Linked DNA regions of Homo sapiens. The protein of the gene in region 7 purifies or fractionates together with the protein of the main gene of each other region. This does not show direct contact. Each region holds a gene or a part of one and is shown on either strand. Other genes may lie near its edges.

Region 1 (3,500 bases), on a different chromosome or scaffold from region 7:
AGAAACCCCTCCGTAGTAAAAGCCATCTTGGCACAGCCGTTCTTTGAGGCTGGTGCCTCTGCGGGCAAACTTCTTTGGAATTCGTCCTCCAGAGAAGGTGGACTGCAGATCCGCACGCTTTGCGCTGAGCTTCTTGTACTGAGCCTGGACATGGTACTGACAGTACTCACAGTCACGCTGCAAAAGGCAGAGCAGTGGCATCAGGATGAGGGCAACAGGCTGGGAAACAGCAGTGAGCAGACACAGTTCCTTCTCCCCACTTCCCGGAACATGACGCATGCAGAGTCCTCCCTGCTGACCTCCACGACCGTTCCCAATGTGGAAGGGCTGCTCAGTCCCTGAGGGGAAGAAGTTCTTCCCTTCGAGTCCCCTGAAAGCACTGTTCTGGTGAAATACCCCTTGCCCTCTTTCTACAAAGGAAATCAGCTTTTAGGATGAACCTTGAAAACAAGTTAGGTGAAAGAAGTCAGACACACAAGGTCCTATGTTATTTAATATAGGACCTATGTTATTTAATATAAAAGGAAGTTTTTATAGAAGAGGCAAATCCATAGAGACAGAAAGCAGATTAGACGTCACCAGGAGACGGAGGGAGTGGGGATGGGAGTGATGACTTTATGGTGCCATTGTTTTTACAGGGTGATGGAATTCTGAAACCAGGGAGCTGGTGGTTACACAACTAAATATCACTGAATTATATATGTATTTTAAAATGATTAACTGTATATTGTGAATTTTGACCCAATAAAAAATAATTTAAAAACAAAATCAGCTCCCAGCGAGGTTTTTCTAGCTGTTTCTCTGGTTGATCCTCGGACAAGTGCTATCCTTTCAGTGAAAGAAACAAAGAGAGATGGTGCAGCATTGTTCTGCTGGGTGAACAGTAGTTACGGCGACAATGGATTTTTTTTTGGAGACAGAGTCTCGCTCTGTCACCCAGGCTGGAGTGCAGTGGCGTGATCCTGGCCCACTGCAACCTCCAACTCCTAGGTTCAAGTGATTCTTCTGCCTCAGCCTCCCAAGTAGCTGGGATTACAGGTGTGCACAACCACGCCCAGCTAATTTTTGTATTTTTACTGGAGACGGGGTTTTACCATGTTGGCCAGGCTGGTCTTGAACTCCTGGCCTCAAGTGATCGGCCCACTTCGGCCACCCAAAGTGCAGGGATTACAAGTGTGAGCCACCGCCCCATCCAGACAATGGATTTTTAAGAATCTAATTCTCACGGGGAGATCTGTTGGGTACTTCACTCTGAAACCTCATTTTCCAACCGTCTCCCACCTTATTCTTTCCTGTCCACCAATTAATCTAATAGGAAGGAATAAGGGAATAAAAAAAGATTAAACCAAAACCTGTCATTTAATCCTTTCAAAGAACTCTAAGAAGTACCTCTTCACACCTACTACAATGGCTATAACAAAAAAGAAATAGAGTAACAGGTGCTGATGAGGACAGGGAGAAACTGGAAAGTTCATCCATTGCTGGTGGGCCACTTGGGAAACCAGTCTGGCAGTTCCTCCAAACTCTGGACAGTTACCATGTTGACCCAGCAATCCCACTCCCAGGTATATGCCCAAGGGAGTGGAAAACATACATCCACATAAAAACTTGTATGTGAGTGTTTTAGCAGCATTATTCATAATAGCTAAATGTGGCAACAACCCAAGCGTGTATCAACTGATGAAAGAATAAACAACGTATGGTATATCCATACAATGGAATATTATTTACCCACAAAAAGGAATAAAGTGTTGATAAATGCTACAGCACGGATCAATTGTGAGAAAAATTATGCTAAGCAAAAGAAGCCAGACAGAAAAGGCCACATATTGTGATTCCATTATATGAAATGTCTAGAAGAGGCAAATCCATAGAGACAGAAAGTAGGTTAGTGCTTACCAGGGGCTGGGGGAGAGGAGACTGGGGAGTGATTGCTAGTGGGTACTGGGTTTCTTTCTGGGGCAATGAAAGGGTTCTGAAATTACACAGTGGTGATGGTTGCACAGCTCTGTGAATGTACTAGAAATTACTGAATTGTTGACTTTATTTATTTATATTCTTTTTTGGAGACAGAATCTCACTCTATCGCCCAGGCTGGAGTATAATAGTGCGATCTCAGCTCACTGAAACCTCTGCCTTCCAGGTTCAAGTGATTCTCTGGCCTCAGCCTCCTGAGTAGCTGGAACTACAGGCGCCCACCACCATGACCGCCTAATTTTTGTATTTTTAGTAGAGATGGGGTTTCACCATGGTGGCCAGGCTAGTCTCAAACTCCTGATCTCAGATGATCTGTCCGCCTCGACCTCCCGAAGTGCTGAGATTACAAGAGTGAGCCACCACACCTGGCCTGAATTGCTTACTTTAAAAGGGTGAATTGCATGGTATGTGAATTATACCTAAATGAAGCTATTATTTTTTAAAAAGCCCTAAGAAAAGGTATAATGGAGTTAAAATATAGGCTAAAATACAATTTTCATTGTATTTCATCATGTTTGCTCTGTGGAATTACAAGAATTAAAGGCAAACAAAAATTCTGTCTTAAACTTCTTGGTCAGATAAAAGATCACTTTCCTAAGAGGTTAAATCCCCTCACCTTTCCCCTGCCCTCACTTTTTTAAACTGGCAGTTATTAACCACACATTAAATTTTCTCATTTTGACTCTTCCTTTAAGTGGGAAACTCAGTTCCAAACTGGTCATCACAGCTAAAGCACCAACAGTTTATTCCTAACTGTTCTTTTCTTTAGCAGAAACCATCCTAACAAGGCTGAAACCAACCAAATTCACAGTCTGCGTGCACGGCTCTCCATTCTTCTTCTTGGCTTTACAGGTTCCCAGGTCAAGAGCTTCACCCATAATTAAGACCTTCTGAGGATGATCGATAGATAAACACACCTGTAAGAAAAGGTGGGGCAGGAGTTAAAGGCGGACAAAATTATGGCCTTTTATTAGCAGGAATAGAAAAAAGAATGGTTGGTGCTGATTTAAGAAGGTTATTGCCAGGCGCAGTGGCTCACACCTATAATCCTAGCACTCTGGGAGGCCGAGGCAGGTGGATCGCTTGAGGCCAAGAGTTTGAGACTAGCCTAGGCAATGTGGCAAAACCCTGTCTCTACAAAAAACCACAAAAATTAGCCAGGCATGGTAGTGCGTGCATGTAGTCCCAGTTACTTGGGGGGCTGAAGTGGGAGGATCACTAGAGCTTGGGAAGTCCAGGCTGAAATGAGCTGTGATCACACCACTGCACTCCAGCCTGGGCAACAGAGTGAGGCCGTCTCAAAAAGGAGAGAGGTTTTAGTGGTCTAAAGGAATTTGAAGCCAGGGCTCTATAACCGTTTTAGGAACAGGGATGCAGAAGGCACCTTCAGTTCTTTTCCCATTTTCCATCCTTTCCTTCATCTTTGCGATTGGAATCCTGATTTTCTCTAGGCTGGCTGACTTCTCAGCCTCAGGTCATAGATCCTGTTCCCTGTTCTCCCAGCACTCCTTAGAGCTAGCATT
Region 2 (2,569 bases), on a different chromosome or scaffold from region 7:
AGCCAGGGACTTTCCCCTGGGTGGCACGCTGGGGAGTGGTGTCAGAGCCAGGATTTGAACCTGGACTCTCTGACCTTGAGACCCCTAACCATTCCCATCCCAAAGGAGACAAAGGAGATCAGTCTCACGGAGGGGACACTGAGGATGGCCCCAGGGCTCGGGAGTGACTATGGTTCCACATACAGACGAGGGAAGAGGCAGGATCCCCGGGTCACTGTTGGGGGAGCACTGGTGTGGGAAGCAGATGGAGGGGGGCCATACCCAGGGGCCACTCGGTGGGCCCACTGACCTGTGAACCTGGAGAAGAGGGGCATCTGGGTGGGAGCTGAAGGGCCGTGGGTCAGCCAGCACAGGGCACACCCGAACTGGGTGTCCCCTCGTGGGCTCCCGGGACCTGGCACAGGCTTACCTCGGAGGGAAGAGGTCCCCATCCCCTGGCACTCTATTACTGGGCTGTGGGCTGCTCACAAGTCATACACCATCACCCCTACACCAGCACATCGCAATGATCCCACTTCATTTATTACCAAAATATCACAGAATTCCAGTCATAGTTAACATACAGCGTTTAACACGAACCTGATACCTGTAGAAAGAACTGAGTATCGGGACAATTGAGTCGTTGGAACTGTAAGCCACGCCCCAAACCGCATCACTCCGTACTTCAAAAATACGATTTTTTGAGAGCTTTGGAAACTGAATTAAAATGTCTACACAGCTATGAACAATTGTTTAATAAAACTTTTTCATGTTTCCATTACATGTAAATATATCAATTTGGCATCTCTATAAAAACTCTGAAAATGGTGCAAAAGTTTCATTCTCTTTGAGAAAGCCATTGACAAAAAATATTCACACTTCACTAAAATTTTGAAAAATGGTCTTCTTTCAAAGCTTCTTTATTAATCTGAAGTCTTCTGGGTTATCAAAATCTAGGTTTGCTTTTTCCTCCTAAAACACTAAAGAACATTTATTCACAAGGATTAAAAAAAAAAAATAAAAAGGCAATGGGCTGATGGAAAACTGATAAGGGCTTTTCTTTTTTTTTTTCTGAAAATAATTTAAAAAGCTTAAAAGTTACATAGGCATCTTCAAAAGAACACAATGGGATTCATTTTATTGTTGACTTTTGGACACCAGTGTCAGACTTTATTGAAAACAAACCCATGTAAAAACAAAGTTAAAATGAAAAATGGCACCTGAAAAATAAATTATTTTATATAAAACAAATCAATAACTTAAAACACACTAATATACAAAAGGTCTAACCATCTACTGTACAACATGGGAATCGGTTAAGAGAGCCTCCCCTCCCCCAAAGCAAGTCACTGTAAACGGAACATCACATGGTCATGGTCAAAGAGGTGGCCCCAAACCAACGGAAAAGGCTTCTCTTCTGGTGGAAGAAAAATCCAGTCCTGTCAAAGTCTCCGTTAGCCTAACTTAGGTACTGGCGGTGACTTACAAGTGAGAAAAAAAAAATTTGTTTTTTTAAATGGCCAAGAAAGAAACCTGAACGATGTCACTGAAAGGTTGTAGAAAAATAGGATCCAGCCATTAGAGGTCAGGGGAAATCAAAAAGGTTTGGAAATGTGAACCCTGCCTGGGATCCGAGATTCAGATTCTACTGCCATCATTACACGCCAATTGCCAATGCCACTTAAAAGAAAGCACTTGTGACTTCAGGGCTGTCTTGCGAAGTTTGGGGACAGGAACCCCTGACCCCCAGAGTCAGCTAAACCCCAGGGGTCTCTGCTAAGGAGCTGCCTCAGGTCCTAGTAGGTGAGGTAGGTCTGGGGAAGATGGGAGGGGATTGAGGTGGAGGGTGGGGTGGAGGGACAGGATAGAGGCCTCCTGTCAGCTGAATTCTTATTCTCTTTCATCCAACACAGGAAGGCTGCGAAAAGCACATGGAAATAAAAGGGGGCTGAATCGGATGTGAAATGTAACAGCTGAGTGATGTCAATTTCGATTTTTCAAGTCCGATGCCGGACTGGGTAAGTCATGTCTTTTCAATGCCTGGTGGACAAATGGCCTTCATTTGGAAGCAAACCGGGTCAAGGAATTGCCACTAACCGTCTTCGGGTGCTTCTATTTCTCTGATCCAGCAGGGACCCCTGGGCTGCCGGCTCCAAAGGGCCGGTCTTGGCTCCCAACAGCAGCACGGTTCAGTCCCTGGAGGCTGGGTCTCCAGGACTAAGGCCAAGCGCAGACTCTCAGAGGTTAAGGCAGCTGCCCTTGGCCAGGAAAAGGCTCACCTTCCAGGAGAAGGTGGCGGAACCCACCCAGCACCACCTGCGGGCGGGCCCCCGAGGAAGCCCATGAATTTCAGGATATTCACGCAGGATGGTGGCCGGGGAGGGGACTCAGCACCCGGGAGGGAATCAGTCACAGAGCTGCGACTAGAGGCACAGCCAGCACAGAAAACTGCGGCTTGGCAAATTACACTGAAAACGAAATAATGGCAGAGCCAAGGGGGAACAAGGGAGAATTCATCAGGAAGCAGGTTCACAAATTCGGAGCTGCCTGGGGTCTAACTACCAGAGGAAGTTACACACGGGTCAAAAGG
Region 3 (2,885 bases), on a different chromosome or scaffold from region 7:
TCCTGGAAGAGATAGGGAGAGGAAAAGGACCACTTGCTTCATCTGGTGACGTTGAGCTTCCTCTCTGTTGATGCAGGTGAAGCATCTGGATGGGGAAGAGGATGGCAGCAGTGATCAGAGTCAGGCTTCTGGAACCACAGGTGGCCGAAGGGTCTCAAAGGCCCTAATGGCCTCAATGGCCCGCAGGGCTTCAAGGGGTCCCATAGCCTTTTGGGCCCGCAGGGCATCAAGGACTCGGTTGGCTGCTTGGGCCCGGAGAGCCTTGCTCTCCCTGAGATCACCTAAAGCCCGTAGGGGCAAGGCTCGCCGTAGAGCTGCCAAGCTCCAGTCATCCCAAGAGCCTGAAGCACCACCACCTCGGGATGTGGCCCTTTTGCAAGGGAGGGTAAGAACTCTGTCGTTTTTATTCTGCCTTTTCTACTGCCTTGGCTGTCCTTTTCTTTGCCATCGTCTCAAGTTTTCTGCAAACTTGTTTTGGTCTTTCCATCTTTTTCTACTCTGCCAGGCAAATGATTTGGTGAAGTACCTTTTGGCTAAAGACCAGACGAAGATTCCCATCAAGCGCTCGGGTAAAGTCCTACCAATCCTCCCTCTGCCCTGAGCTCTGCCCTCCATTGCCCTTACACCATTGTGCTGGGGATATCCCCTGCTCTTATGCTTATGTCTCTGTCCTCCCAAAGTTCTGATTTGGCAGTGCTAGCATCTCTGTTGATAAGCACAGAACCGGGTTATGCCACCCTTGGTGTGGTTGGCAAAGAGTCTATAGCTTGGGCATCAGGGCCACCTGGCATCTCTTCAGTCAGGTGCTCACAACACTCTCCCCTTGCAGACATGCTGAAGGACATCATCAAAGAATACACTGATGTGTACCCCGAAATCATTGAACGAGCAGGCTATTCCTTGGAGAAGGTGAAGGGGCAGCCCTGGGGGATGGGCACAGTGGGGAAGCCTTGAATTGAACAAAAATGTACAAGTCCCTTCTCGGGAACCAAAGAGACCTGCTAATCCAGCTCCATCGCTATGCTGAGGGGCAGACAGTGGCCTAGGGAGGGGTGTAGATTAGCGATGGGTCACACAGCAAGTCAATGGTAAAAGTGCAGCTAGGACCCAAGACACCCAACTTAATCCTGGCTTCTGTCCGTCCATGGCAGCTCCTGCCATGTATTTGAGATTTCACCTCTCCCTTTCATTCCCCATTCTCTGTCTCCCTAGAGTCCCACTCACCACAAAGATGATGATGACAATAGTACATTTGCAGCGTGTTTACCGGGTGCCAGGCACTTAGCTATGTACTTTGTGCGTATTATCTCACTGATTTCTCACACATGCGAAACTCCTAGGTACATAGGGAGCTGCAGCATGCCCCGGAAGCTGAATTTTGTCATCTCACAAGCTGTTCTCCCCATCCACAGGTATTTGGGATTCAATTGAAGGAAATTGATAAGAATGACCACTTGTACATTCTTCTCAGCACCTTAGAGCCCACTGATGCAGGCATACTGGGAACGTAAGCTGGGAAAGGGCTGAGGTGTGGGGGGCTTCTGCTTTGGCCATGTGCTGCTACTCCTCCTTTGTCCTACTTCCCCCATCCTCTTAGAGAGTCAGGAAAGACAGGGTCTCAAAAGCCCCGTCCCAGTTCCTATGCATAGTTGGAGCCCTGCTTACAGTGGTGGCACCTGATTATGATTGACTGGAGGGTGTAGGAGCCTGGAGTGGGACATTCCTGCTGTCAGGTTTGCTGTCTCTGTAGAAGCTTCCCAGGAAAGCAGGCCTGTCGTTGCTTGCCTCTTCCTACTGGGTGCCTGGCCTGGCTTTGGCAGAGTGGTTCTCAAGGAGGGCTTCCTGGTGTGGGTGGATCAGGATGCATGAAGCGCAGGAGTGTCAGTGGGGCTGAAGGTTCTGGGACAGAAAGAAGGGACTCACATTGACTGAGTGCTTGTGTTGTACCAGGTTGGCAGCCATTCTTCCATCTTCTTGGAAACCCAGGGAAGGGAAAATATGATTTTTTCTATTTTACTGAAGAGTAGACTGAGGCTTGCAAGTCTAAGTGCCTTGCCAAGGGTGGCATAGAGCTGGAAGCAGAGACTGGGTAGAATTCTGTATCTGAGGAATCTGGGAGAGGCTAGCCTAGTGAGTTGGCTGGTGTGTCTGTTGCAGATGGCTGCTGAACATAAACCTCTCTGTCCTGTTATTTCTCTAGGACTAAGGACTCACCCAAGCTGGGTCTGCTCATGGTGCTTCTTAGCATCATCTTCATGAATGGAAATCGGTCCAGTGAGGGTGAGTGGCTGGGCTTGCAGCTGAATGGGTGGCTGTGGTCTAGATTCCATGTGTTCAATTTCTGTCCCTGTCTCCTCTTGCCTCCCCTCGCAGCTGTCATCTGGGAGGTGCTGCGCAAGTTGGGGCTGCGCCCTGGGTATGATTGGGCTCTCTCAGCGCTTGCTGTCCGTGTTGTCCTTTGGCAAGAGAGGACGGTCCTAGGATTGCATCAGTCTGGTGGTCTGGTGGAGCGGGTGGGGTGCTGGACTGGGTAGAGGGCCCAGGGTTCTGACCTGGGTGGATGATGGGTGAATGGTCCTGAACTCTCTGCTCCCTCTCTCAGTGTCTCTTGGGCTTCTATGGAGCTTCCCTCTTGTGCTGGAAACCTCTTTTCCATCTTGGAAATGCCTCTGCCCACATCTGGGAAGTGCCATAGCCTTGAGTGAATTTATTTGTTTATTTATTTTTCTTTTTCTTCTCTCAGGATACATCATTCACTCTTTGGGGACGTGAAGAAGCTCATCACTGATGAGTTTGTGAAGCAGAAGTAAGTATCTCTGTCTGGTGTTCATGTGTCCCATGCATTTGGCCTATTTCAGAACTGAGTGATAAAGCCGTGGTGCATG
Region 4 (3,500 bases), on a different chromosome or scaffold from region 7:
TCTCATTACTTCAGTACAAATCTTTTTAATATTCTGTGTAGTGAAATGGAAACTACATATTAACTACTTCTGTTGCATATCAAACTATGAGGGTTAGCTAGAGAAAAATCACTCAAGATGGGAGTTATAAGCTCAACTAGTCACTTTTTTCATGCGACACCATTTTTACTTGAATGACAACTATCAATCACGACTGAGTGTCTGAAAGATACTTTCTAGAAAATGAACAAAGTGAGGCTGTCATCTACAAAGGAAACAACTGAGCTTGTCAATGATAAAATGTGAGTTTTCAATAGAAAATTAGAATGTTGGAAAAGTTGTGTGTGACACTATGAACATAGTGCCTTCCCAAAATGTAAATGATTTTCTAATAACATCAGTGGTAATATTAATGAATGTAAGTTTTGGATATTGCATATGAAATACATCAACATTTAGTAGGTCTGCCCAACTCAATGAACCAACATTTTCTAAATGAGCAATGCCTGGTGTTATAAAATCATACATGGGTAAAATATTCATTCAATGAGCAAGATACACAAATAGATTTTAACAAAACAGGGTATAAAAAGCTCACTGATATGATTTAGCGTTCCATATTACAACAATTAACCTTTAATAAACTAATATTTATTGAATTTTGATGCAGTATATCAAAGAAATCTGCAATTATCTAAAAAGCTATTACAATACTCCTCTCTTTACAGCAACATACCGTCGTAAGGACAAATTTTCTTCATATACTTCAACCAAAACAACCTAACAGAACAGACTGAATGAAGAAGCAGGTGAGAATTCAGCTGCCATCTATTCGGCCAAACACAGAGATGTGCAAAAATGTGACAATGCCAGTTGTTGCAACAAAAATGTTAATGTTTTGGCATAGTTATTTTTCTTTTAAAAATATGCTATTTATGTTAACAAGCAATGAGTTTGTACTGCTATCTTTAGCTACCACTGCCTAATACTATAACTACTGATAACAGCACACAAAAGCAAAAGCTCTTTGAAATCAGTAATTTTTATGAGTAGAAAGGGTTACTGAGACTGAAAAATATAAAAACTGCTAGTGTAAGGACACATAAGTATCTATTTAATACTCTGCATAACACAATATTTGTGATGGAATACAATTTCACATAACATTGTTTTGTCTTTACTTTTTAAAAGAAAACCTATGAAAGACAGGTCACCCTGAATTTCAAAGAGCAAAGAAAATTGAGAAACATGGCCAGGCAGGGTGGCTCACATCTGTAACCCCAGCACTTTGGGAGGCCAAGGCGGGCGGATCACTTGAAGTCAGGAGTTCAAAACCAGCCTGGCCAACGTGGTAAAACCCTGTCTCTACTAAAAATACAAAAATTAGCTGGGCATGGTGGCACATGCCTGTAATCCCAGCTATTTGGAAGTCTGAGACAGGAGAACTGCTTGAACCTGGGAGGCGGAGGCTGCAGTGAGCCAAGATCGCGTCACTGCACTCCAGCCTGGGTGACAGAGCAAGACTCCATCTCAAAAAAAAAAAAAAGAAAACTGAGGAACACATCTTTATACCACTATTTTAACTAAAAACTACAGGAAAAACTGTGTTCTACAAAGATAGTAAGATCTAGTCCCAAACTGGTACCAACATATTCCTATCTCTTTTTACTTCAAAATTACTTTCTAGAAAATCATAATCACAAAATTAGATTTTATTAACTAAAGAAAAAAATAATTACCAAACCCATATCATCAGCTAAAATTCCTCCATGGACATTTTCTGGTCGGTCCTTCTCAGAAAAATTTGTTATTGTGTTATAGTATAAGTCATTTCGCTGTTCCCAGAATGGTGGAAGTTCTTTGCTATTTTCCCGTGACACCATCCAAGCTAGAGCTTGTTTTTGATGTGGAAGCAGTGGTGTTTCAATAGCCTATAAATAAAAAGTCATAAAGCGAAATACATTAAGCCATTCCTTTTTCACATGCAGATCCTGTGATTAAACAAAAAGTAGATTCTAAGTATATTTAAACATTCTGAGTAGTCTTAAATAAAAAATATTGGTTCAATACCTCAGCTGGTTCCATTTCATGGGTTTTATCATCTTCTTTTAAATCTTCAAACAATTTGTCAAATTCTGTTTTAAGCTACAATAAACAGCAACAAGAAACAATGTAAAACAAACTAATTAAAATAATACTTGCATTTAAGTCAGATTTGAAATCATTTAATTAACTGGCGTTAATGTCAAACGGGCCAGGAGTGGTGGCTCATGCCAATAATCTCAGCACTTTGGGAGACCAAGGTGGGAGGATCACTTGAGCTCAGGAGTTTGAGACCAGCCTGGATAACATAGTGAGAGATCCCATCTCTACAAAAAAATTTTTAAAAAATTAGCCAGGCATGGGGGTGCATGCCTGTAGTTCTGGCTCCTAGGGATGCTGAGATGGGAGGATCACTTCAGCCTAGTAGGTAGAGGATAGAGTGAACCATGATTATGCCACTGCACTCCAGCCTGGGCAAGAAAGTGAGACCCTGTCCCAAAAAATTAAGAAATTGAAATTAAATTAAATTTAAAAACCACAAACTAGTCAAACGCCAAAAAGGCACATAAATCAACTCTAGAATTACACTACTCACTGAAGAGCGAATGAACAGGTGCTTTAGTTGTTAGGAGGTAAAAGAATATAAAAGAATTTTAAGTCCCGAGTTTCAGTCACAGTTTTATCACAAATAAGCTTATATGTAAGTTTCAGCAAGACTTGACCTTTATGGCCCCATGTCTTATTCCTATAAAATGAAAGGGATGAACTAAATTTAGATTGTCTCTAAGGTTCCTTCTGCCATTAAAATTCTGTGATGCTATCAGTTGTATTCAAAATATTTTCTCAGTCCTACCAGGTCAATGACATTCCATTTATTATTACTGCAATAAGGAACTTGCCATGCACTATAGGATACTTTTATTATTATGCTAACTTAATTGACTATTTAAACTAGGTTAGTCCAATTTTATATCAACATATATGTGATACAGATATTTTTGAAAATTAACACATGAACACAGCAGCAGCTCAGAAGAAATCAGGCCAGGTCTAAAAAATCAGAAGTAACCGGGGGCTTATCTACCAGAAACAAGCTCAAGTCCTTCTAACAATAAGCAGGGTAAATATGGTAACTACAATTAGTAGATAAAAGGACTAACACTGGTAGATACAAACATCAAAAAAGTTTTAATGTTATTTTTAAATTGATCTGCATTAATTACTTTATATACTTTTTTTTCAAAGAAATTCAGCATAACTCATCCTAAATTACAAATTAGACAATGTGAAGAATTTGGAGTTAAATCTTTAGCACTGCATTTGCAAAATTACTGAAAGGAGTTAAGTCTCAGCTTCAATTTTTTTCTTAAAATTACTACTTGAACATTTAAAACATTTCAGATACAAAAATATGCCGTGCATAAACAGGAACGTGTGTGTTTTGTATGTTGGGTACAAATGTTCACGTATGGATTTAT
Region 5 (3,766 bases), on a different chromosome or scaffold from region 7:
CTGTAAACTATTTTCCTGGGTTCTGACAAAGTTGTTTCTGAATGTTTTTGCTTGATTTTTCAATGTTTCTGTGGAGGAAAAGGTCCTTGAAGCTACCTACTTGGCCATTTTTGCTGATGCTACTCTTGGTTACATTCTGAGGGCCCGACATTGTGTATGAAAATTGGTAGAGCTAATTTATGGTTCTGGATGTTAAAATTATCTGGAGATTTATTTTTGCTTCTGTGAGGCAGTGAAATTAGTTGCATCAGCATTCTCAGATAACTTAAACAGTCATGGAATGAGATGACTTAAAGCTGGACTTCAGGCTGTGTGAGGGCCTACTTCTCACTAACCTTGCACCTAGGATAGCCCCTTGGAGTGCAACTAAAAGCCTGCAAGTTTACTAGGCTCCTTCTTCTTTGGTGGTACCTGCATAGTTTATTTTGGGAATGTGAATGCAGCTTGCCTAACCCTCTAAATATACCCATTGCCAGATAAGAAATTATGGAGCAAGCAGGTTAATGTAGAAACCACATTTATTAACCATGGATTTACTGAGGGCAGTTTATTAGGTATTATCCATCGCTTATGCTGACATCTGATTTTGCAGAGAAATTATAGCCATTATTTTATTAAGATAATTCTACGAGATCAATTTAGTTTCTTGAAGTAGCATATATTCAATTCTTCAATAGGGTTTGGTTTAATTTAGCTATCAAAGTCAGATGTCTCTAAACTTTACACACTAAACTCATCGTGAGCAGAAAATTTATTCTTTGTACATATTCCTTCTGTTTTGGTTCTTCAAGCTGAAACATCTCAACTTCCAGAAATATGGTTGCCAGATCAAAAATACCAGAGTCCTAAGGGTTAAGATTTGAATCGAGAAAAAGATACATGTACACATTGTATTATATACAAACAAGCAACAACAAAAAGTTTCATCATGTAAACAAAAGAATATAAATTATAGACATAATTGGAAGTTTCAAACAGTCCTTAAATCATTGTGAGCTTCTCTAAAAGGCACAGGTCTTGGAGTGTGGGCACAGAGCCATTAGTCAGATGTCTGGGTGGTCTCCCATAATAGCAATGTATACTCTTAAGTGGGCTTTTTGTGAACTCTGTCAGGGTGAATGAGTTAGGCCTCTTAAAGGAATGAAATGCTTTCACATTTGGGGCAACAAGTGAAAAATACTGAAAGGAGGGATACAACTAGGGTTAGATTTATTGTTGACAGTGATTTTAGAAATAACCACTAAAAAGGTGTTAAAAGATTTCTAGATAAAATTCTGACTACTGAAAATAAGAAAGGATACCTTTTGTAGCTCTACAAATGGTTTGGTGAAAAATAAAAAGGGAGAAAGTGAGCCGAGGAGAAAGCGAAATAGGGAAGTCTAGGGAGGATGCAAGAAAATACACAAGTCATAGCAAGAAAAAAAACATGAGATGGTCCTTTCTAAGGACAGATGTTGGTGATATTTACCTATGTAAGCTCAAGCTGAGAAGAGTACAGTTCTTATATATTCATTACTTAATAATATACAAGAAAAATACTTTTCATTTGTTATAAAAGAACTACTTTATATGAAAACTAGAAATACGTATTTACATTGCAAATCCCAAATGAAACCCAATTTAATACAAAGTGAACTATAGGGATGACAGAAAAATGGGTAGATATCAAAATTCAACTGAATTTACAGTACTGCCTTATATCTTTTTTAAATTTTGTTTTTGAGACCGAGTCTTGCTCTGTTGCCCAGGCTGGAGTGTAGTGGTGTACCTTTGGCTCACTGCAACCCCGCTTCCTGGGTTCAAGTGATTCTCGTGCCTCAGCCTCCCCAGTAGCTGGGATTACAGGAGTGTGCCACCACGCCCGGCTAATTTTTAACAGAGACGAGGTTTTGCCACGTTGGCCAGGCTGGTCTCAAACTCCTGGGCTCAAGCAATCCACCCGCCTCAGCCTCCCAAAGTGCTGGGATTACAGGCATGAGCCACCGCGCCCGGCTGATATATATATTCTTTTAAAATCTATACACAAGGCTCAAGTTCTGGGGTTTCAGGTTTTATTTTTAAGTTTTCTTTAAAAATAAAATTGCCAACCCCCAAGTGAATTAAAGGTTGATCTGGGCTCGCAGAGGTAATCTGCTCTTTGTAACCAAGTGCTCTGTAGTTTCTTCCACTTTAGACCTCTCCAGTGTGTTAATGCCTCTGTTTTCTTTGTCTTTTCCATGTGATTTTTTATGCTGTGGATTTAAGGCGGGAAAATTAAGTCAATACAAAGTAACATTAGATACACATTAACTACACTCTATTTTCAAAGTTCTCTGGGTTATAGGCAAAAAAACTTAAGTGTAGAAAACCAAAAAAGGTTCAGCACAAGTTTGAGCCAACAATTTGGCAAGTAGCGCCAAATGCCTTCTTTATTTGATCACTAATGGAAGGAGTAGAGTGAAAGAAATATTAATTTTCTGTGTTATTTTCTAAGACATAGTTATAGATTTTACTCCAGGGTAGTGGTTCTCATCAGGGAGTGATTCTGCTGCCACAGGGGACATTTGGCAATGCTGAGAGACTTTTTTGGTGTTACAATCAGGGAGTGCTACTGGCTTTGAGTGAGTATTCACATAGTACACTGTTTTTCTTGTGTACCAACATAGTACAGTCCACAGGAAAGCCCATCACAACAAAGAATTATCCAGTTTAAAATGCCAATAGCACTGCTGTCAAGAAACCCTGCTCTAAGGAAACAAAGATTTGCTGTCATGCAGAAAAGCCAATTCTGTTTTAAGCAGAGAAACTGGTATATGGGCCACCTTAAAAACACTTTTACTTGTTTTTTAAAATTGTATTTTATTTTATTTGTAAAACCTATTTCATATTCCTCATTTGGAAGTTCTATTTCATTGGAATCCTACTTACCCATACAGAACATTAATGGACTGGTGACATTCATTGTACACTCAGTCATCAATGCTGAGACAAATTGTAAACCAACTTTTAAAGTTTTAAACGCAGAGAAAATCCCCACATCACACTGCTACTAGGGAAAAGATCATTTCTGGACTTCAGCTGAAGGTCTAAAACCCCATCCCAAACCCTTTCTGGTACTGTAGGGACTTCCTTGCCATAGCTGAATCACTAAGCCTAATTCAAAATGCCACAGATAATAATAATAAAACGATTTCTGACCAGGGATTAAGTAGTCACCAGGTTCTCTTATCCTTCCCCCTTTCCTAACTTTATAAGATAGAAGAAAAGGATGAAAACTGAAAGAAACATATTTATAGTTCTCTAATAGTAAGGAATAAAGCAAAAGGTGGCAAGAATTTGGGAATAAAATTGCCCAGAGGAAGACAGGGAGGAATTTATGAGAATCTGAGTTGGAACTTTGTTAACTGTTGAAAGCAGGGATGGAGAATCTTTAGACCTTAAGGGAAGGAGCTGTAGATCTATTAAAAAACAGTTACAGGCCGAGCGCGGTGGCTCACGCTTGTAATCCCAGCACTTTGGGAGGCCGAGGCGGGCGGATCACCTGAGGTCGGGAGTTCAAGATTAGCCTGACCAACATGGAGAAACCCCTTCTCTACTAAAAATACAATATTAGCCAGGTGTGGTGGTGCATGCCTGTAATCCCAGCTACTCGGGAGGATGAGGCAAGAGAATCGCTAGAACCCGGGAGGCGGAGATTGTGGTGAGCCAAGATCAGGCAATTGCACTCTGGCCTGGGCAACAAGAGCAAAACTCCGTCTCAAAAACAAAAAAACAAAACAAGACATAC
Region 6 (3,500 bases), on a different chromosome or scaffold from region 7:
AAATAGAAGGTGAGCGAGAATGTAGACTGGGTGATGAGGTTGAGCGACTCTGGCTGTGAATGGAGGAGTAATTCTGGAAAGGTGAAGTCACAGGGGAATCTCCTTTGGAGAGGCTTCTGAGATGTGCTGTGAGGGAGCTGCTAGTGGCCACATTCTGTGGGGTTCCCCCCTGTTCAGAGAACTTTAAAACAACATTCTCTTCCTTAAGTCAAAATAAAGAGAAAGAGGAAAAAAAAAAAAACAATAATTAGAATAAAGTAGCAATTTCCTTGTAAGAATGCAAGTTGAAGTCAGTTACTAAAGACACAGTATTTCTTCTTTCCTAAGAAGCTCAATCTATTTCTCAAATGAGGCCAGGTGCCGTGGCTTACATCTATAATCCCAGCACTTTGGGAGGGTGAGGAGAGAGGATAGCTTGAGCCAAGGAATTCAAGACCAGCCTGGGCAACATAGCAAGATCCCATCTCTACAAAAAATTAAAAATTAGCTGGGAGTGGTGGTACACATTTGTAGTCCTAGCTATTCGGAAGGCTGAGGCAGGAGGATCACTTGAGCCCAGGAGTTCAAGGCTGCAGTGAACTGTAATTGTGCCATTATACTTCAGCCTGGGTGACAGAGTGAGGCCCTGTCTCTAGAGATGATGATGATGATGATGATGATGATGATGATGATGATGATGATAATAAAACTATTCACAAGTGATTTTTCCAAAAAAAAAAAAAAAAAGTGAGGGTATGAAGTATTAACTACTCTTTCATATATATATATACTTTTTTTTTTTTTTTTTTTGAGATGGAGTCTCATTCTGTGACCCAGGCTGGAGTGCAGTGGCATGATCTTGGCTCACGGCAACCTACACCTCCCAGGTTCAAGTGATTCTCCTGCCTCAGCCTCCCGAGTAGATAGGATTACAGAAGCCACCACACCTGGCTAATTTTTTATATTTTTGGTATAGATGGGGTTTCACCATGTTGGCCAGGCTGGTCTTGAACGTCCTGACCTCAAGTGATCCGCCTGCCTTGGCCTCCCAAAATGCTAGGATTACAGGTGTGAGCCAGTGCACCCAGCCTACCCTTTCCTATTAAGGAGAAGTGACTTGCCTTTCTCCTTACCTCTGATTTGACTCTCCGGAGAGTCCACACAGAATGCACATTTTGAACAGCATCATAAGTCATTACAATAGAGGGGTCAGTATTGAGGAAAACAATTTTCATTGCATGATCTACAACATATTGCACCCGTGATGAACCAAAAAGACCTTAAAAATAAAATAGAAAAATCAGGTATAGAACAATGGGCTTTACAAGACTGATATTTATGAACAGAGCTCTTAAAATTGTTAAAGATAAAGAACAACCAAGCCAAAGAGAGCACAAAATTTATTACTATCTTAAATAATTAACTCTGAATTTTTAATAAATTTACTTTAGGCATCAACTTCCTTAAAATACATTAAAGATGAGAGCATTACAAGTTTTAGCTTCACATACATGCTGTTGCTAAATGTTAAGATTTGTGCTGACTCTCACCATTACACGAATCAGCCACAGGTAAAAGGTCGATGATTTCTTCAACTGACTTATTTATAAATTGCACTCAACTATTCTGCCAAGTTTGACTTCCTTATTGGTTCTGTTTTTCTGTATGAAAGCTGTACTCTATAATTACTATTCAGACAGTGCCGAACAGTACACTGTTGTTTCTGCTTTACTAGTTACACATGCAAAATAAGGTTTTTCCCAGTGAGTTCAGCTTTTAATCTAAAGTACCATGGACTGGTCTCCATATCCTTATTTGACAGGAAATGTTTCCCACTCAGTTAAAATACTGAAAAATTTTAAAATATGATTCTATAATCATAAGAAATACTTTATAAATAAAAATCATGCCACCATCTCAAAATATCTACTATTAATACATTAGAGAATTTTTGGTTTTTTTCATACATATATACACACTTTATACATTTTTACAAAATTATAATCATACTGTGTTATTTGTATCCTACTTGACATCACAAATAAGCAACTTCTAGTTCACTAAATATTAGTCAAAAATATGATCAATAATGGCTACACTCCTCCCTCCAGTCCGTGCCTCCAAGATGACAAAGAAAAGAAGGAACAACAATCATGCCAAAAAGGGGCACAGCCACATGCAGCCTATTCGTTGCACAAACTGTGCCCGACGTGTGCCCAAGGACAAGGCCATTAAGAAATTTCATCATTCGAGGCTGGGCAGGTGGCTAACGCCTGTAATCCCAGCACTTTGGGAGGCTGAGTCAGGCGGCTCACGAGGTCAGGAGATCGAGACCATCCTGACTAACACAGTGAAACCCCGTCTCTACTAAAATAAAAAAAATTAGCGGGTCATGGTGGCGGGCCCCTGTAGTCCCAGCTACTCGGGAGGCTGAGGGAGGAGAATGATGTGAACCTGGAAGGTGGAGCTTGCAGTGAGCCCAGATCCCGCCACTGCACTCCAGCCTGGGCAACAGAGCGAGACTCTGTCTCAAAAAAAAAAAAAAAATTCATCATTCGAAATGTGGTGGAGGCCGCAGCAGTCAGGGACATTTGTGAAGCGAGTGTCTTCAATGCCTATGTGCTTCCCAAGCTGTATGTGAAGCTAAATTACTGTGTGAGATGTGCAATTCACAGAAAAGTCGTCAGGAATCCACCTTGTAAAGCCCACAAGGACCAAACACACCCACCAAAGCCCATGTAAGGAGCTGAGTCCTTCAACACTGAAGACAAGGCCAGGCGTGGTGGCTCATGTCTGTAATCCTAGCACTTTGGGAGGCCGAGGTGGGTGGATTGCCTGAGCTCAGGAGTTCGAGATCAGCCTGGGCAACAGGGTGAAACCCCATCTCTACTAAAATACAAAAAATTAGCTGGGCGTGATGGCACACCCCTAATCCCAGCTACTAGGGAGGCTGAGACAGGAGAATCGCTTGAACCTGGGAGGCAGAGGCTGCAGTGAGCCGAGATCGTGCCATTGCACTGCAGCCTGGGTAACAAAGCGAGACTCCGTCTCAAAAAAAAAAAAAATGAAAATAAAACGACTAAAAACAGACTATTCTCCAGAGAAAAAATAAAATGGAAATTGTACTTAAAAAAAAAAAAAAAAAAGGCTGCGTGCCATTTAATCCCAGGCTCTAGTATGTTTATTCGGGTTGTCTGCAATTAGTAACAACATAAAATTTGAACTTTTTCTGTAAAAGATCAAAGACTAAATAGGGCAGTTTGCTGTCCACATACTGACTCTATCACATAATCTTTGTTATTTCCTACAACCCTTTAAAAGGTAAAAACCATTCTTATGTTGGGTGCGGTGGCTCACGATGTAATCCCAGCACTTTGGGAGGCCGAGGTGGGTGGATCACCTGAGGTCAGGAGTTCAAGACCAGCCTGACCAACATGGTGAAACTACGTCTCTACTAAAAATACAAAATTAGCTGAGTGTGGTGGCACATGCCTGTAATCCCAGCTACTTGGGAGGCTGAA
Region 7 (3,500 bases):
AGGAGGCACTCACTTGCTGGCTCCAGGCCTGGTAGTAGGCTCCCAGGAACAACAGGCAGGCAACGGGCACTGGGCCCACGGCTCTCCACATCTCAGGTCTGGACAGCAACTTCAAGGTCTGCCTTAGACACGGCTCAACAAGAGGCTGGAGCCCAGACACCTGTGTCCAAGTGACTAAGGAAGGGGTGGCCGAGAGGCTGGCCTCAGCAGAATCACTACAAAAGTGCCAAAGGGTGCCACAGTGAGGATCTGGCTGCCTCACGCCCCTTTACACTCCAGCCACCCCAGCCCTGTGGAGGAGCCCTCCACCTGTCCTGTGGGTCCTGGCTATAAACTACCTGATGGTTTCAGCAGGGGTACTGCCGGCTGCCAGGGTTAGCTGGGTGAGGAGAGTGAGCAGTGAGGCTATCCGCTGCATGGACAGGGGTTGAGGTGGGTGGGTGCTGAGCTCCCGCGGCACCACCTGCAAGGCCCGCATCAGCACTGGGTAGAGCTCCCTAGGGAAGAACAGGGACTGATTTTCACTGTATGAAAGCAAGTGGAGACATGAGACACAGGTCATGGCCCTGACCCAGGGATCTGCAGTTTGATAAAGGAGGATGAGGAGGAAGAGTGGGGCACTCTTGGAAGGCTCAGCCCTAAAGAATGGAAAGGATGTTGTCCTTCAAGGCTGCCCCCAACAGGGAATTTAAATGTGATTTCACAGATACCAATGCTTTTTTTTTTTTTTTTTTGAGACATTCTCTGTTGCCCAGGCTGGAGTGCAGTGGAGTGATGGAGTGATCTCGGCTCACTGCAACCTCTGCCTCCCAGGTTAAACCGGTTCTCCTGCCTCAGCCTGCCGAGTAGTTGGGATTACAGGTGTGTGCCACCACGCCTGGCTAATTTTTGTATTTTTAATAGAGACGGGGTTTCACCATATTGGCCAGGATGGTCTCGAACTCCTGACTTCGTGATACGCCTACCTTGGCATCCCAAAGTGCTGGGATTACAGGCATGAGCCACAGTGCCCGGCTAATGATTTTGAGCATAGAATACGGTTAAGCCAGGTTTATCCCCCTCTTCCCTGGCTGGGCCTGACTCCTAAGCCTTTTCACATCTGGCAGAAGCCCTCCCACTCATTCTTATCCTTCCTCCAAGCTTGGGACCTTGAGCAAGGCTGAGGTGTTTGATTTGGCCAGAAGAGCAGAACTGAAGGTGTCTAGGGGGAGCCTACCCCCTGCCTCTCCTCACCTGTAAAGGTAACCGCCCTGGCCATAGGAGGCAGCCACAGCCCACAGACGGAGGGCCTCGGTGCTCAGCATCTCAGCTTCCTCTGGGGGCAAGGCCAGTTCTTGGGGAGCCTCAGCTATGATGCGGCACAGGCGGCTCCGGAGATCAAAGCTGCTCAACTGGAAATGGGCACAGTCTGAGGATCAGGGTCAGCTGTGAGTCTCAAGTCCAGCTACTCTCAGCTGGACAGAGAGTGGCTTAACTCAACCCTGACCCAGGCCCCTCTGGTGCCACAAAGTCATACCTCATCCACCCTGCCCTTCCTTCTTATTATTTATTTAAAATTTCAATTTTATTATTTTACTTTTTATTATTTATTATTATTTTGAGATGGAGTCTTGCTCTGTTGCCCTGGCTGGAGTGCAGTGGAGTGATCTTGGCTCACCACAACTTCTGTCTCCCAGGTTCAAGAGACTCTCCTGCCTCAGCCTCCCAAGTAGCTGGGACTACAGGCATGCGCCACCATGCCCGACTAATTTTTGTATTTTTAGTAGAGACGGGGTTTCATTATGTTGGCCAGGCTGGTGTCGAACTGCTGACCTCGTGATTCACCCACCTCGGCCTTCCAAAACGTTGGGATTACAGGTGTGAGCCACCGCACCCAGCCCCTATTATTTTTTTATTTTTATTATTATTATTTTTTTAGATGGAGTCTCGCTCTGTCGCCCAGGCTGGAGTGCAGTGGCGCAATCTCGGCTCACTGCAATCTCTGCCCCTCCAGGTTTAAGCAATTCTCTGCCTCAGCCTCTGGAGTAGCCGGGATTACAGGCGCATGCCACCACGCCTGGCTAATTTTTTGTATTTTTAGTAGAGACAGGGTTTCACCATCTTGGTCAGGCTGGTCTTGAACTCCTGACCTCATGATCCACCTGCCTTGGCCTCCCAAAGTGCTGGGATTACAGGTGTGAGCCACCGCGCCCGGCCCTATTATTTGTTTTTAGATGGAATCTTGCTCTGCCACCCAGGCTGGAATGCAGTGGTGTGATCTTGGCTCACTCCACCCTCCATCTCCCGGGTTCAAGCAATTCTCCTGCCTCAGCCTCCCAAGTAGCTGGGACTACAGGCGCACACTATTATACCTGGCTAATTTTTGTAGTTTTAGTAGAGGTGGGGTTTTGCCATATTGGCCAGGCTGGTCTCGAACTCCTGACCTCAAGTGATCCACCACCTCGGTCTCCCAAAGTGTTGTGATTACAGGCGTGAGCCACTGCACCTGGCCAGTAGTAGTATTTTTGAGACGGGGTCTCGCCCTGTTGCCTAGGCTGTAGTGCAGTGATTGGTGCAACCAGCCCACTGCAGCCTCCACCTCCCAGCTCAAGTGATCCTTCTACCTCAGCCTACCGAGTAGCTGAGACTACAGTCATGTGCTACCACATCTAGCTAATTTTTTGTTTTTGTTTTTTGTAGAGACAGAGTCTTGCTATGTTGTCCAGGCTGGCCCCTGAACTCTTGGCCCCAAGTGATCCTCCTGCCTTGGCCTCCCAAAGTGCTGGGATTACAGGCCTGAGCCACTACACCCAGCCCTCCCTCTTTATAGCAAGGCTTGCTGGGCACCTTCTCTAGGGCTACTTGGCTATAGATGATGAATGCCTATGTGCATGAAGCCCTTCTGATCTGGGTCTAGGGAACAGGGAGACCTCCTATTACATCATGAGACCACAGTATACCTATATGATGCACCAGGCTCCAGTAAACAGGCTCCAGTAAACAGGTTCATGCCTGGTGATTTCTGTTGCATTTCTAAGCAACTGGATCAGAGAGGAAGAAGATGGCAAGAGCTGGCCACCCAGAGTTCAGGAGCCATGTTTAGCTCCCAACCCAACCCTGTCCCATGCATTCCCCCATCCCTTGCCCTGTGTCCTGCTCACCAGCCGGGCAGCAATATTCCTCCCAGCTGAGGCCAGGACACGAAGTAGTTTCATGGCAGTAGCACAGGGTACTTTGTATAGACTAGGGGTAGGCCCTGCCCCCACAGGAGACCAACTGGTGGGCAAGAACTCTCGAACTATAGTCTCTATCAGCCGAGGGCACTCCAGGACCTATGGGAGACAGGAGGTAAAAGGGAGGAAGGGAGGCTGTGGGTCAAGACAAGGCCCAGCTAGGCTTTTTGCCCATTCCCTGCTCCCTTTTTTCTCACCCTTGTGGCTGATTCCAGGGAATGCCGGGCCAGGCGGATGAGCACAGCCAGGATGTCAAGGACCACCGCAGGTCCTGGGTATGTCACCTCC

Evidence for each region.
Region 1: the proteins of RPAP1 (region 7) and MCM10 purify together in Homo sapiens (affinity purification with mass spectrometry, with the first as the bait; one large-scale study listed by BioGRID). This does not show direct contact.
Region 2: the proteins of RPAP1 (region 7) and ELAVL1 purify together in Homo sapiens (affinity purification with mass spectrometry, with the first as the bait; one large-scale study listed by BioGRID). This does not show direct contact.
Region 3: the proteins of RPAP1 (region 7) and MAGED2 purify together in Homo sapiens (affinity purification with mass spectrometry, with the first as the bait; one large-scale study listed by BioGRID). This does not show direct contact.
Region 4: the proteins of RPAP1 (region 7) and HLTF purify together in Homo sapiens (affinity purification with mass spectrometry, with the first as the bait; one large-scale study listed by BioGRID). This does not show direct contact.
Region 5: the proteins of RPAP1 (region 7) and KIF11 purify together in Homo sapiens (affinity purification with mass spectrometry, with the first as the bait; one large-scale study listed by BioGRID). This does not show direct contact.
Region 6: the proteins of RPAP1 (region 7) and ANAPC1 purify together in Homo sapiens (affinity purification with mass spectrometry, with the first as the bait; one large-scale study listed by BioGRID). This does not show direct contact.

Annotation. Positions count from the first base shown.
Region 1 is NC_000010.11:13,185,558-13,189,057, reverse strand, and holds part of MCM10 (protein MCM10 homolog), read right to left. Parts: intron 2,895-3,500; coding exon 2,778-2,894; intron 178-2,777; coding exon 1-177. UniProt on the Homo sapiens protein: Acts as a replication initiation factor that brings together the MCM2-7 helicase and the DNA polymerase alpha/primase complex in order to initiate DNA replication. Additionally, plays a role in preventing DNA damage during replication.
Region 2 is NC_000019.10:7,958,073-7,960,641, forward strand, and holds the end of ELAVL1 (ELAV-like protein 1), read right to left. Parts: 3' UTR 501-2,569; downstream 1-500. UniProt on the Homo sapiens protein: RNA-binding protein that binds to the 3'-UTR region of mRNAs and increases their stability.
Region 3 is NC_000023.11:54,810,745-54,813,629, forward strand, and holds part of MAGED2 (melanoma-associated antigen D2), read left to right. Parts: intron 1-76; coding exon 77-385; intron 386-505; coding exon 506-569; intron 570-829; coding exon 830-909; intron 910-1,412; coding exon 1,413-1,507; intron 1,508-2,200; coding exon 2,201-2,280; intron 2,281-2,373; coding exon 2,374-2,416; intron 2,417-2,743; coding exon 2,744-2,806; intron 2,807-2,885. UniProt on the Homo sapiens protein: Regulates the expression, localization to the plasma membrane and function of the sodium chloride cotransporters SLC12A1 and SLC12A3, two key components of salt reabsorption in the distal renal tubule.
Region 4 is NC_000003.12:149,069,534-149,073,033, forward strand, and holds part of HLTF (helicase-like transcription factor), read right to left. Parts: intron 2,125-3,500; coding exon 2,050-2,124; intron 1,911-2,049; coding exon 1,719-1,910; intron 1-1,718. UniProt on the Homo sapiens protein: Has both helicase and E3 ubiquitin ligase activities. Possesses intrinsic ATP-dependent nucleosome-remodeling activity; This activity may be required for transcriptional activation or repression of specific target promoters.
Region 5 is NC_000010.11:92,652,130-92,655,895, reverse strand, and holds the end of KIF11 (kinesin-like protein KIF11), read right to left. Parts: intron 2,232-3,766; coding exon 2,100-2,231; 3' UTR 501-2,099; downstream 1-500. UniProt on the Homo sapiens protein: Motor protein required for establishing a bipolar spindle and thus contributing to chromosome congression during mitosis. Required in non-mitotic cells for transport of secretory proteins from the Golgi complex to the cell surface.
Region 6 is NC_000002.12:111,863,694-111,867,193, forward strand, and holds part of ANAPC1 (anaphase-promoting complex subunit 1), read right to left. Parts: intron 1,259-3,500; coding exon 1,113-1,258; intron 203-1,112; coding exon 1-202. UniProt on the Homo sapiens protein: Component of the anaphase promoting complex/cyclosome (APC/C), a cell cycle-regulated E3 ubiquitin ligase that controls progression through mitosis and the G1 phase of the cell cycle.
Region 7 is NC_000015.10:41,523,758-41,527,257, forward strand, and holds part of RPAP1 (RNA polymerase II-associated protein 1), read right to left. Parts: coding exon 3,410-3,500; intron 3,312-3,409; coding exon 3,141-3,311; intron 1,392-3,140; coding exon 1,234-1,391; intron 498-1,233; coding exon 339-497; intron 216-338; coding exon 14-215; intron 1-13. UniProt on the Homo sapiens protein: Forms an interface between the RNA polymerase II enzyme and chaperone/scaffolding protein, suggesting that it is required to connect RNA polymerase II to regulators of protein complex formation.